3 linked regions of the Homo sapiens genome follow. The protein of the gene in region 3 purifies or fractionates together with the protein of the main gene of each other region. This does not show direct contact. Each region holds a gene or a part of one and is shown on either strand. Other genes may lie near its edges. The genes, in order: TBCD, PPWD1 and ME1.

Region 1 (3,654 bases), on a different chromosome or scaffold from region 3:
TTTTCCTTTTTCTAAAAAGGAATTCCAGAAAATAATGAACTCAGCTGGGCACGCTGGCTCACACCTGAAATCCCAGCACTTTAGGAGGCCAAGGTGGGTGAACCGCTTGAACCCAGAGGTATGAGACCAGCCTGGGCAACACGGCAAGACCCCTTCTCTACAAAAAAAAAAATTTATTTATTTATTTATTTTTTTTTTTTTTTTTTTCCGAGACGTTTTCGTTCTTGTTGCCCAGGCTGGAGTACAATGGCACGATCTTGGCTCACTGCAACCTCTGCCTCCTGGGTTCGGGCAATTCTCCTGCTTCAGCCCCAAGTAGCTGGGATTACAGGCGTGCACCACACGCGGCTAATTTTTGCATTTTTAGTAGATACGGGGTTTCACTATGTTGGTCAGGCTGGTCTCAAACTCCTGACCTCAGGTGATCCACCCGCCCCGGCCTCCCAAAGTGCTGGGATTACAGGCATAAGCCACCACACCCGGCGAAAAACAGTTTTTGCAAAGAAAGAAAATAACTCTAAAAATCATTCGCAGTACTCTAAGCAGCTCACAACAAGTGTTAATATTCCATGATCCACTCTGGAAAGAGGTCTGGCAAGAATAAAGGCATTTAACTACAGGTCCAACGTTGTTACTTGAAGAGATATAAAAACACCACCCGCTACCTTGTGAGCAGTGACCACATCTGTTTCCTGGGAACCAGCGCTCACACACAGGAACTCCAGGAACCCAAGACCTCCTATAAGATATGGCCTGGGGAGCCCACTGCCTGCCACGCCATCCAGCATGGCTAGCCCCTCCACCAGATGTCAGAGTCATGTTCCCTGCAGCTGACCCTCTCCCAAGGACCTCTATCTTTGGTCTCCTTCACAAGGCCTATAAATTTTTCTAGGACAGAAGGACAAGTCTGATCCCAATGAATTCTTGAATCCCGAATTTAGAGGGTTTTTTTTGGTTTTTTTTTTTTTTTGAGATGAAGTCTCACTCTGTCACCCAGGCTGGAGTGCAGTGACGTGATCTCAGCTCACTGCAAGCTCCGCCTCCCGGGTTCACGCCATTCTCCTGCCTCAGCCTCCCAAGTAACTGGGACTACAGGCAACTGCCAGCATGCCCAGCTAACGTTTTGTATTATTAGTAGAGACAGGGTTTCATCGTGTTAGCCATGCTGGTCTCGAACTCCCGACCTCAAGTGATCCACCCGCCTCCACCTCCCAAAGTGCTGGGATTACAGGCATGAGCCACCACCCCCAGCCAAAATCTGTTATTTGAAGAAAAAAAAACAGAACAAGATGCACAGCACAAACTACTCTTTAAGAGGCACGTGTGCGCACATGAAAGGCTGACCCTTAGTGTCTCTCACACAGATCTCAACACCACGGGGGGCGAGGAAACCCCGGCAAAGAGCAGCTCAAAAACTGAATGGTGAAACTGGGCTATGAAGCCAGGGTGCCCCCACCCAGGGTGCTCCCTCTCAACGTGGTGACTATTGCCACCTTCCTCTTTCCCAGGTGAACTGCCAGAAGCATGTGTCACATTTGTAGGTAGAAAAAGAAAAATTTTAATCAGTGTGAAATACATCAAAAATAAAGAAAACAATAAGAAACCACACCCCTTACACTAAAGTAAGAAAACCGAGCCTCAGTGTCCCCATCTGTAAACTGGAGATGACAACAGATGCCCTCCTTAGCTGCTGTGAGGATTAAATGATGACCCATGTAAAACACCTGACCCTGTATGACTATTACCAGAAAAACATCATGTGCCCAAATGTAAACTAAAATAATAAACTAATGTAAACTAAAAACACTTGAGGAGGCCAGGCGCGGTGGCTCACGCCTGTAATCCCAGCACTTTGGGAGGCCGAGGCAGGCGGATCACGAGGTCAGGAGATCAAGACCATCCTGGCCAACATAGTGAAACCCCGTCTCTACTAAAAATACAAAAATTAGCTGGGCATGGTGGCGCATGCCTGTAATCCCAGCTACTCGGGAGGCAGAGGCAGGAGAATCCCTTGAACCAGGGAGCTGGAGGATGCAGTGAGCTGAGATCGCGCCACAGCACTCTAGCCTGGAGACAGAGCGAGACTCCGTCTCAAAAAAAAGAAAAAAAAACAAAAAAAACACATGAGGAGCAGATGTTGTTTCCTTAGCAGAAAGGAATTAAGTAGCTCAGACACATCTCCCCCCAGCCTAGAGTGACATCTGGAACTCAAGCCACTATCACAGGTCGGCTAAAACCAACCAGCCAGGCAAGCAAGACAGGGACACTTCTTGGCATTTGATCCTGGCAAAGCACATGCATGTGCCAGCACCACACACCAAGGCCTCCGTGGTCATCTGTAACTGAATGATCAAAATCAGCAGCTTCTATTCTTACCAAGGTGCGGGTCCAACAGATGAGGCTGCTCCTGGTATTTGTCCATTATTACTAAAAACAAATATAACATGAAAATTAATTATCACTAGGCCAAACATACCCATGAGCCTCAGAAACCCCATTTTCCCTTGCTAGCTTCCACAGGGCAGCTCCACCTCTTCCCCAGCTCTCAAGAGCACACCTCCCCTCTCACTAAAGGAGGCCACACAGGCCACCTGGAGGGAATGCCCCACCTCCCTCTAGCCTTTTGAGGGCCACTGTGGCCCAGCCTCGTGCAGTTTACTTGCTTGGCACACTGTTCCTCTTTTCCCACTGCCTCGATACTCTTCCTAACAGAGTCTCCTCCTCGCCTCTTCCTTCCTTCACTCTCTCCTGCCTCTGCCAGCCGTTAAGGGCCAAGCTCAACTCTGTCCTTGTGAGACACACATCCCTGGCACTCCTCTCACACTCCCCTGCCAAACATGCCTGTAAACTAAAAACAAAATTCTAAGCCCCCTAGCCATCTAACAGACCCCTCCTCTTGGCCAAGGGCATTCCAAACTTAACCTGAAAAACTAGTTCAGGCCTCATGATATTAAGGGATTGTGGGGAGTGGTCCACATAGGCCTCATTATACCCTCCTCTCGTTGGAATTCAGGCACAGCTGATCAGTATTAGCATTAAAACCGATCTTAAGTAGCAATAAGACACCAAATTCCAGCCTGACTCTAGTACAGCATCACATGACAGACAGCAGGCCCTGAAAGAAATCAAAATATTTTTCCCTAAAATATATTTGACATATTTTGAAATGGTTCTGCTAAGTTGTCTCTTGCTGGGAAAAGCTACATTCTGTAGAGAATCCCTTCCTTTTCTAGGTCTTTTCCCTGATCCAAGAGAAAATTAACTAAGTCTGGTACCTTTTTAGTCTGATGAAAAGCATTTACAATCTATTCTCTCTGAAACCAGCTAACTGGAACCTTCATCTGCATAAGAAAAACCTTGGTCTCCACAATTTATCTTAACCTAGACAATCCCTTCTATGGATTCCAGGTCTTCAGATAAACTCTTTCAACCAATCACCAATCGTGAAATATTTGAATCCACCAATGCCCTGGACGCCCTCCCACCCAAGATGTCCCGCCTTCCCTGACGAGACCAATGTACATCTTACAGGTATTGATTGATGTCTCACGTCTCCCTAAAACGTGTAAAACTAAGCTGTAGCCCGACTTCCTTGGGGACATGTGACCTCCTGAGGCTGCCTCACGGGCACACCCTTAACCTTCTAAACTGATT
Region 2 (3,654 bases), on a different chromosome or scaffold from region 3:
ATGTCTGGTAACTGTTGCCTCATCTGTTGCAGTTCAGTAAACATCTAGGAAATAAACCATTTAGTAACAAAAACTCTATATACATATACCTATATCTATATCAACCCATCTATCTATATATGCAATGAGAATTTAAATAGAAGCAGAATACATATTAAGAGCCACTAACTGTTTGTACTTCTTAAGAGGGATTCTAAACAATATGAAATAGACATTAGTAAGTCCAATCACTAAAAAATAGTATTTCAGGCTGGGCATGGTGGCTTATGCCTCTAATCCCAGCATTTTGGGAGGCCAAGGCAGGTGGATCACCTGACATCAGTTCAAGAACAGCCTGGCCAACATGGTGAAACCCCGTCTCCACTAAAAACATAAAAACTTAGCCGGGCATGGTGATGTGTGCCTGTAATCCCAGCTACTCGGGAGGCTGGGGCAAGAGAATCGCTTGAACCTAGGAGGCAGACGCTGCAGTGAGCCGAAATTGCGCCACTGCACTCTGGCCTGGGGGACAGAGTGAGACTCCGTCTCAAAAAAAAAAAAAAAAAAAAATTGTATTTCAAAATGGTAACTGGTTCTTCTAATTTAAAACAAAACCCGGTTGGTTAATAGAACTACTGCTTTCTCTACAGAATACATCTGCTGCCTTTTAAAAGTCACAGAGTAGCACTTTCCAATGAAATATAACACAAGCCACATAGGTAATTTTAAAGTGTCTAGTAACATTAAACAAAGTATAAAGAAAACAGGTGAATTTCATTTTAATGTTTGATTAAACTCAAAATATCCAGAATATCATCTCAACAATATAAAAAATTGAGATAACTTACATTCTTTTAAAAAAAATTAAGTCTTTGAAATCTTGTATTTTACACTTTCAGCATATCTCAGTTTGGACTAGCCATCTATCAAATGCTCAGTAGACACGTGGCTAGTGACTGTTTATACTGGATAATGCAGCTATAGACTATGAGGTCCTTGAGCAAGGTTACGTGCCTGACATAACAAGCACTCAATTTTTGCTGAATGAATTCATCTCACTAATTTATAACAAATTCATAATATTTCAGAAAATGTCTCAAGTTATTCTGACACAGGGCAGTGAGATTACCATTAGGTACATGTTATTTAGTAGACATGACTATTTCTATAAGTGTCCTTTATAGTTTGGAAATTTGGTTTACTTTTCTTTTGATATTACACAAATTTCAAGATAGGCATCACATCTCAATAACTGTATTAACATATTATGAACCTTCCAAAAGAGTAACGATCTTTACATTCTTTTCTACACAATCAGGGCATCAAACAGTAGCATTCAAAAATAGCTCTCCATTGCAGATGAAAATAAGCCAGACTTCTGTCCCATCTAATTCTATCCTTATTTCATGCTTATATTAACCATAATCTTGTGTTTTCTAGATAAGGTTAGAACTATATACAAAACTCAAAAAATCAAAATGAGGTATGTGTGTTAGGGTATAAGCACAAGGTCAAGGTCTTACAGAACAGTTAAAAAGCCTAGTTGTTAGGTTTTCTTGTCTCTAGTCTCAAAGACAGGGAGACTGATACATATTACGCTGCTTATTCATGTGCCAGGAATAGCCTAGGATGCTGGACTACACATTTTGCAGGGAAGGGCTAATGATCATTTCTGCCGGAGAGAAGACTCAGTTTTTAAGGCATAAGGTCTGTAGGTGGTCATCTGTCCCTATATAAGTATTCCATAAATGTTATCCAACCTGGTAAGTACCTGATCAGAATCTTTTTCAGAGTGCTCTAGACTTCATAGCAGGGCTTCTGTGATATTCAACTGCACAGCCATATATAGTGACCCTGGTTAATAAATACTAAAAGATAATTTACACCATCCCATTCAATTTCTTTTCTGTTAAACTAGGATTCCGACTGGTTAGAAACTACCCTCCTCCACTACCACCTCCTTGAGATTCCAGTCATTTACTAGTCACTAGCACTGTAAGTAATTTAACTGATGGTTGGCTTTTTTGGCAAACTCTCATTCTGAATCTCCACTTCTGTCTTAAGTTCTACTACTGACTTCTTGTCACCTCAGGCTAATCATTTAAGCAAATGTTGAAGACAACAATGAGCAAATAGAGTGGATTGAGCAGCTCAGAGTATGTGTGTTAAGAGATTTGTGCCGGCCGGGCGCGGTGGCTCACGCCTGTAATCCCAGCACTTTGGGAGGCCGAGGCGGGTGGATCATGAGGTCAGGAGATCGAGACCATCCTGGCTAACAAGGTGAAACCCCGTCTCTACTAAAAATACAAAAAATTAGCCGGGCGCAGTGGCGGGCGCCTGTAGTCCCAGCTACTCGGGAGGCTGAGGCAGGAGAATGGCGTGAACCCGGGAAGCGGAGCTTGCAGTGAGCCGCGATTGAGCCACTACAGTCCGCAGTCCGGCCTGGGCAACAGGGCGAGACTCCGTCTCAAAAAAAAAAAAAAAAAAAAAAAAAAGAGATTTGTGTCCAGAGACTAGATTCTGAATATTTCTTTGCCTAAGGGATCTTGGAAGAGCTGCAAGTTAATAGAATTTTAAAATTATATTTAAATTGCAAGTCATATTTAGTTATCTGCCACCATTAAAGAAAGTATTACCGATAAATGTTTCTCCTTAAAAGCAGAGTGGAAAGCTATCTTCTTCCAACAAGAAAATTTGTCATAAGGATAATTTGGCTGGCAAACAGATCTTCACATTTGTCTGGAAATATATTACTTCAGACAGACAGACAACCAACTCATTTATTACCACGTGCCACCAAATCAAGATCGCCACTAGAAAGAGTTGACAGAATTTATGAAGAGCTTACAGCAGGGAATCCAATGCAAATTGGTCACTGCCAAGGACAAAAGAACTGACACTGTCATACAATAAACTTTGCTACAAAGGTTCAATCCAGACTCAGAGGATTCAGAGAACCACTTGATGGCAATAGTTGCAATCACAGAAACCGCTTAACTGCATGGATTAAAAACTCTTATTCCACGACTACATGCTGTAACAAATTCTTGTTAGCAGTCTAACAAGTGATGGCTAGAGTCACTCTTTCAAAATATTTGAGTAACTCTTGTGTGAGGTACTGTTCTCACTGCTGGAGATAGAATCATAAGTTAAAACAGATCACATAGGGCTTAGTCTACTGGAGGTGATACACATTAATCAAATAATATGACCATATCAAATGCTCTAAAAGAAACAGTGATCTACAGTCACATTAAAAAAAACTCTGCTGGCTTGGCACCGTGCCTCACACCTGTAATCCCAGCACTTTGGGACGCCAAGGCAGGCAGATCACTTGAGGCCAGGAGTTCAAGACCAGCCTGGCTAACACGGTGAAACCCGTCTGTACTTAAAAAAAAAAAAAAAAAAAAAAAAAAAAAAAAAAAAACCATCTGTACTAAAAAAAACCCATCTCTAATAAAAAAAAAATATATATATATATATATTAGCTAAGTGTGGTGGCACACGCCTATAGTCCCAGCTACTTGGGAAGCTGAGACAGGAGAATCGCTTGAACCCAGGGGGCGGAGGTTGCAGTGAGCTGGATCATGCCACTGCACTCAAGTGCAACTCTGTCTCAGAAAATAAATTAATTAAATAAATAAATAATAAAAAATAAAAAAACTGTGCAAGACA
Region 3 (3,654 bases):
CTAGATGTCAGTAGCCCCTCCCTTTACTCCCTTCCAACCCCGCTACCCTAGTTAAGACAACTCAAAGCTTCCAGACATTGCCAAATGTTTCCTGCAGGGCAAAAATCCCTCTTATTTGAGAACCACTGTCTATCTGGAGTAATCAAGCCTAGAAAAGTGCTGAACGTGCCAGGTATTAACAGGCTGAGTTAGAGGAGGGGGCCATACGCTTCATCTCAGATCAGTAAGAGAAAGACGACAGGACTAAAGTTAAAAATCTAGGTCTCTACAGGGTACTGTCGCTTGAGCGAACGTGTAGTTTTTTGAATTCAAAAAGGCTAAATTATACCTCAAAAATTGGTAGTAAAAAAAACAATCAGGTCAAAATAAGGGGTAGGGGAGAAGGGAGAGGAGAAAATGCTTACCTATGAGGGCAGTTGGTTTTATTTCTTGAACAATGGCTTCTAGGTTCTTCATTTCTTCATGTTCATGGGCAAACTTCTCTTTCTCTTGTGTTAAGGAAGCACGTCCCTAAGTAAAGCCAGTAAGAAAAAATTAAGAATCTGCCAAACATGTGAGGGTCAATAAATTTCGGTACATATATTACAAATATTTATGCTTAACATTTTTATGTATGATGTGTTACAGCTATTCTTAAAATCTCTTCTTCAATTGTCAGAATGTTATTTCATTCATTCGTTTAACAAATATTTATATGTCAATGTTCTAGGCAATGGAGATGTAACAGTGAACAAAACAAAGTCCTTCATTTAATTGATATTAAAAATCCTAATTTTACAGACATGTGAGAACTAGCATTAACAAATGGCCATGCAAAATATAATTTAAATAATTATATTGTTCGTCACACATTGTGTTTTATAGCAGGTCTCAGAATTTGGAGTTGGCTTCAGCTTTAGCCCTACCAATTTATGCTACTGACTAAGAAAAGAATTTGAAGTCATATTTATGTCATTGTTAGATTTTCTCAGTAAGTATGCATTTTATATGTTTTTGTTTTTAATGTTCTGATTATGAATGCGCCATGTGTTATCTAGTAAACATCTAATTATAATATTCTAGCTGCAAATTTTAAAGATTTGACTACATAATGGATCACTGCCTAATTTTATATGGTACTTGATGACTTACAAGTTGTTTTCACATATTTCATTTGATCCCCTCAACAATTCTGAGAAGCAGGACAAGTATAAGTATAGTCATTTTACATATGCGGAAACATGTTCAGAGGTTTTAAGGGACTTGCTCAAGGCAAGAGATTGTACTAGAACTCAAAGCCTTTTCAATATAGCACAGAATCACCCCGGGCAAAAACTTAACAAATAGTATGTCATAGTCTTTGCAAATTGTTAATAATGAAGATAGTACAATTTTCTTTCTTTAAAGGGTATTATCATTTTATTTCTGTTGCTTTTGTTTGTTTGAAATGAGGTCTCATTTTGTCATGCAAGTTGGAGTGCTGTGGATCAGAGGTCACTGCAGCCTTGAACTCCTGGGGTCAAGGGATCCTCCCACCTAAGCCTCTCTAGTAGCTGGAACTACAGGCATGCACCACCATGCTTGGCTAATTTATCATTTTTTTTTAGAGATGGGGGTCTCGCTATATTGCCCAGGGTTGTCTCGAACTTCTGGCCTCAGGAGTGATCTTTTCGCTTCAGCCTCCTGAGTCACTAGGATTATAGGCGTGAGCCACCATGCCAGGCTCTGTTTTTTTTTGTTGTTGTTGTTGTTGTTGTTGTTTTTAATTTTGTTTTGTTTGTCTTTTTTTTTTGAGACAGAGTTTTTGCTCATGTTGCCCAGGCTGGAGTGCAGTGGCGCGATCTCGGCTCACCGCAACCTCCGCCTCCCGGGTTAAAGCTATTCTCCTGCCTCAGCCTTCCAAGTAGCTGGGATTACAGGCATGTGCCCGGCTAATTTTATATTTTTAGTAGAGACAGGCTCTGTTTTTAAAAGCAATATACTGAATTATTAAAAAATTTGAAACATATGAACCTCTTTGTGCTTGTCTCCTCATCTGTAAATAAGGATAATAAGGACTTCTACCTCATCAGGTTGTTTGTGGGGTAAATGAAATGTAATGCATGTAAAACACTCAGGACTGTACCTGGTTTATAGTAAGAGCTCTATGCTAGTTGTTGTTGCAATTAAAATTTTTGTGAAGAAGAAAAAAATCATAATTCCAGCACTTAAAGTTTTGGTATATTTTCTCCTATTAATAATCTGCTGTAGGCCAGGCGCAGTGGCTCATGCCTGTAATCCCAGCACTTTGGGAGGCTGAGGCGGGCGGATCACGAGGTCAGGAGATCGAGACCATCCTGGTTAACACGGTGAAACCCCGTCTCTACTAAAAATATACAAAAAATTAGCTGGGCGTGGTGGCAGGAGCCTGTAGTCCCAGCTACTCAGGAGGCTGAGGCAGGAGAATGGCATAAACCCAGGAGGCAGAGCTTGCAGTAAGCCAAGATCACACCACTGCACTCCAGCCTGGGCGACAGCGAGACTCTGTCTCAAAAAAATAAAAAATAAAAAAAAGAAATGATTAGCCAGTTTTGAGAATCAGTGTACTAAATGATCTATCATATCCCTACCACATGCGTTTTTAAGAGGTTATGTGCTATGTTTTCAAAAAAGTATACAATAATGAGTCTAAAGAAGAAAAGCTATAGAATAAGATAAATTGGAAGTCACAGCTTTTTTGGCTGTCAAGCTGAGATATAATGAAAAATATTTAAATTGCCTAGAATGGGAAACAAATAATAAAAAAGACAGATGAATAATGTATGAAAAGAAAAAGATATATACTTAATCATAAACATCTTTATTAATCATAGTATACCCACTGGCAGCTCCTAGACACTGAAGCCAGAACTTAGCCAGAAGACATTCCATCTAGTAAGAAGCATAAATTACCCATGGCAACACTTTCAAAGGCTTGATTCCTGGTATGACTTACAAGTGCTGAAAGAATGCTGAAAAAAGTCCAGGAATCACGAAATGGTAATACTAGCAATACTGAAGGTCTTACTTGACAAAACAGAAGAAGCAAAAGACACACACACAAAATGTCTCCCAAGTATGTTCTCTACCATTTTCAAAATTGACTTGATGACCTAGTTTAAAGAAACTACTGGAATGTGACAACCTTTTCTAAATCCGGTAATACTGAGGCAACTACCTGTACCTTTGGACTTCTATTTTCTAGACTAATGGCTTATTTTTCTTTATTTTTCAAAATCTGATTTGGAATACATATTCGTTATGCCAATAACTTCAGTTGGTATGGAGATGAGTAGATGTCTTTTCCCTTCATTCTCCCTTTTCAGGATCCCTTGCTGAAATCCTTTTGCCTTCTTTTGGCAAAGTGCATGTGGGCACCTCTCACCTCAGAAATCCCAAATTCTATGATGCATCTTTTCTCTCTCTGTTTTTTTCAAGAGTCTCTAATTACCTCAAACATATTATGGATAGCTGAAACTTTATTTGTGATATTATTACTTTAATCTCCCCTATCCCTTTATATTGTGATGATTCTTACTATATCGTAGAAGATATAACCAGATTTAATTACTACCTTTTCAAAAGCACATGTTTATAGTGGGCATAGGGAGGAGAATGGGGGCAAAGGCTGCCAAGATTTTGGGCTATTATTCCACA

Evidence for each region.
Region 1: the proteins of ME1 (region 3) and TBCD fractionate together in Homo sapiens (co-fractionation; one large-scale study listed by BioGRID). This does not show direct contact.
Region 2: the proteins of ME1 (region 3) and PPWD1 fractionate together in Homo sapiens (co-fractionation; one large-scale study listed by BioGRID). This does not show direct contact.

What each region holds. Positions count from the first base shown.
Region 1 is NC_000017.11:82,754,938-82,758,591, reverse strand, and holds part of TBCD (tubulin-specific chaperone D), read right to left. Parts: intron 3,346-3,654; exon of another isoform or gene 3,276-3,345; intron 2,428-3,275; coding exon 2,377-2,427; intron 1-2,376.
Region 2 is NC_000005.10:65,573,269-65,576,922, reverse strand, and holds part of PPWD1 (peptidylprolyl isomerase domain and WD repeat-containing protein 1), read right to left. Parts: intron 45-3,654; coding exon 1-44. UniProt on the Homo sapiens protein: PPIase that catalyzes the cis-trans isomerization of proline imidic peptide bonds in oligopeptides and may therefore assist protein folding. May be involved in pre-mRNA splicing.
Region 3 is NC_000006.12:83,228,422-83,232,075, forward strand, and holds part of ME1 (NADP-dependent malic enzyme), read right to left. Parts: intron 511-3,654; coding exon 405-510; intron 1-404. UniProt on the Homo sapiens protein: Catalyzes the oxidative decarboxylation of (S)-malate in the presence of NADP(+) and divalent metal ions, and decarboxylation of oxaloacetate.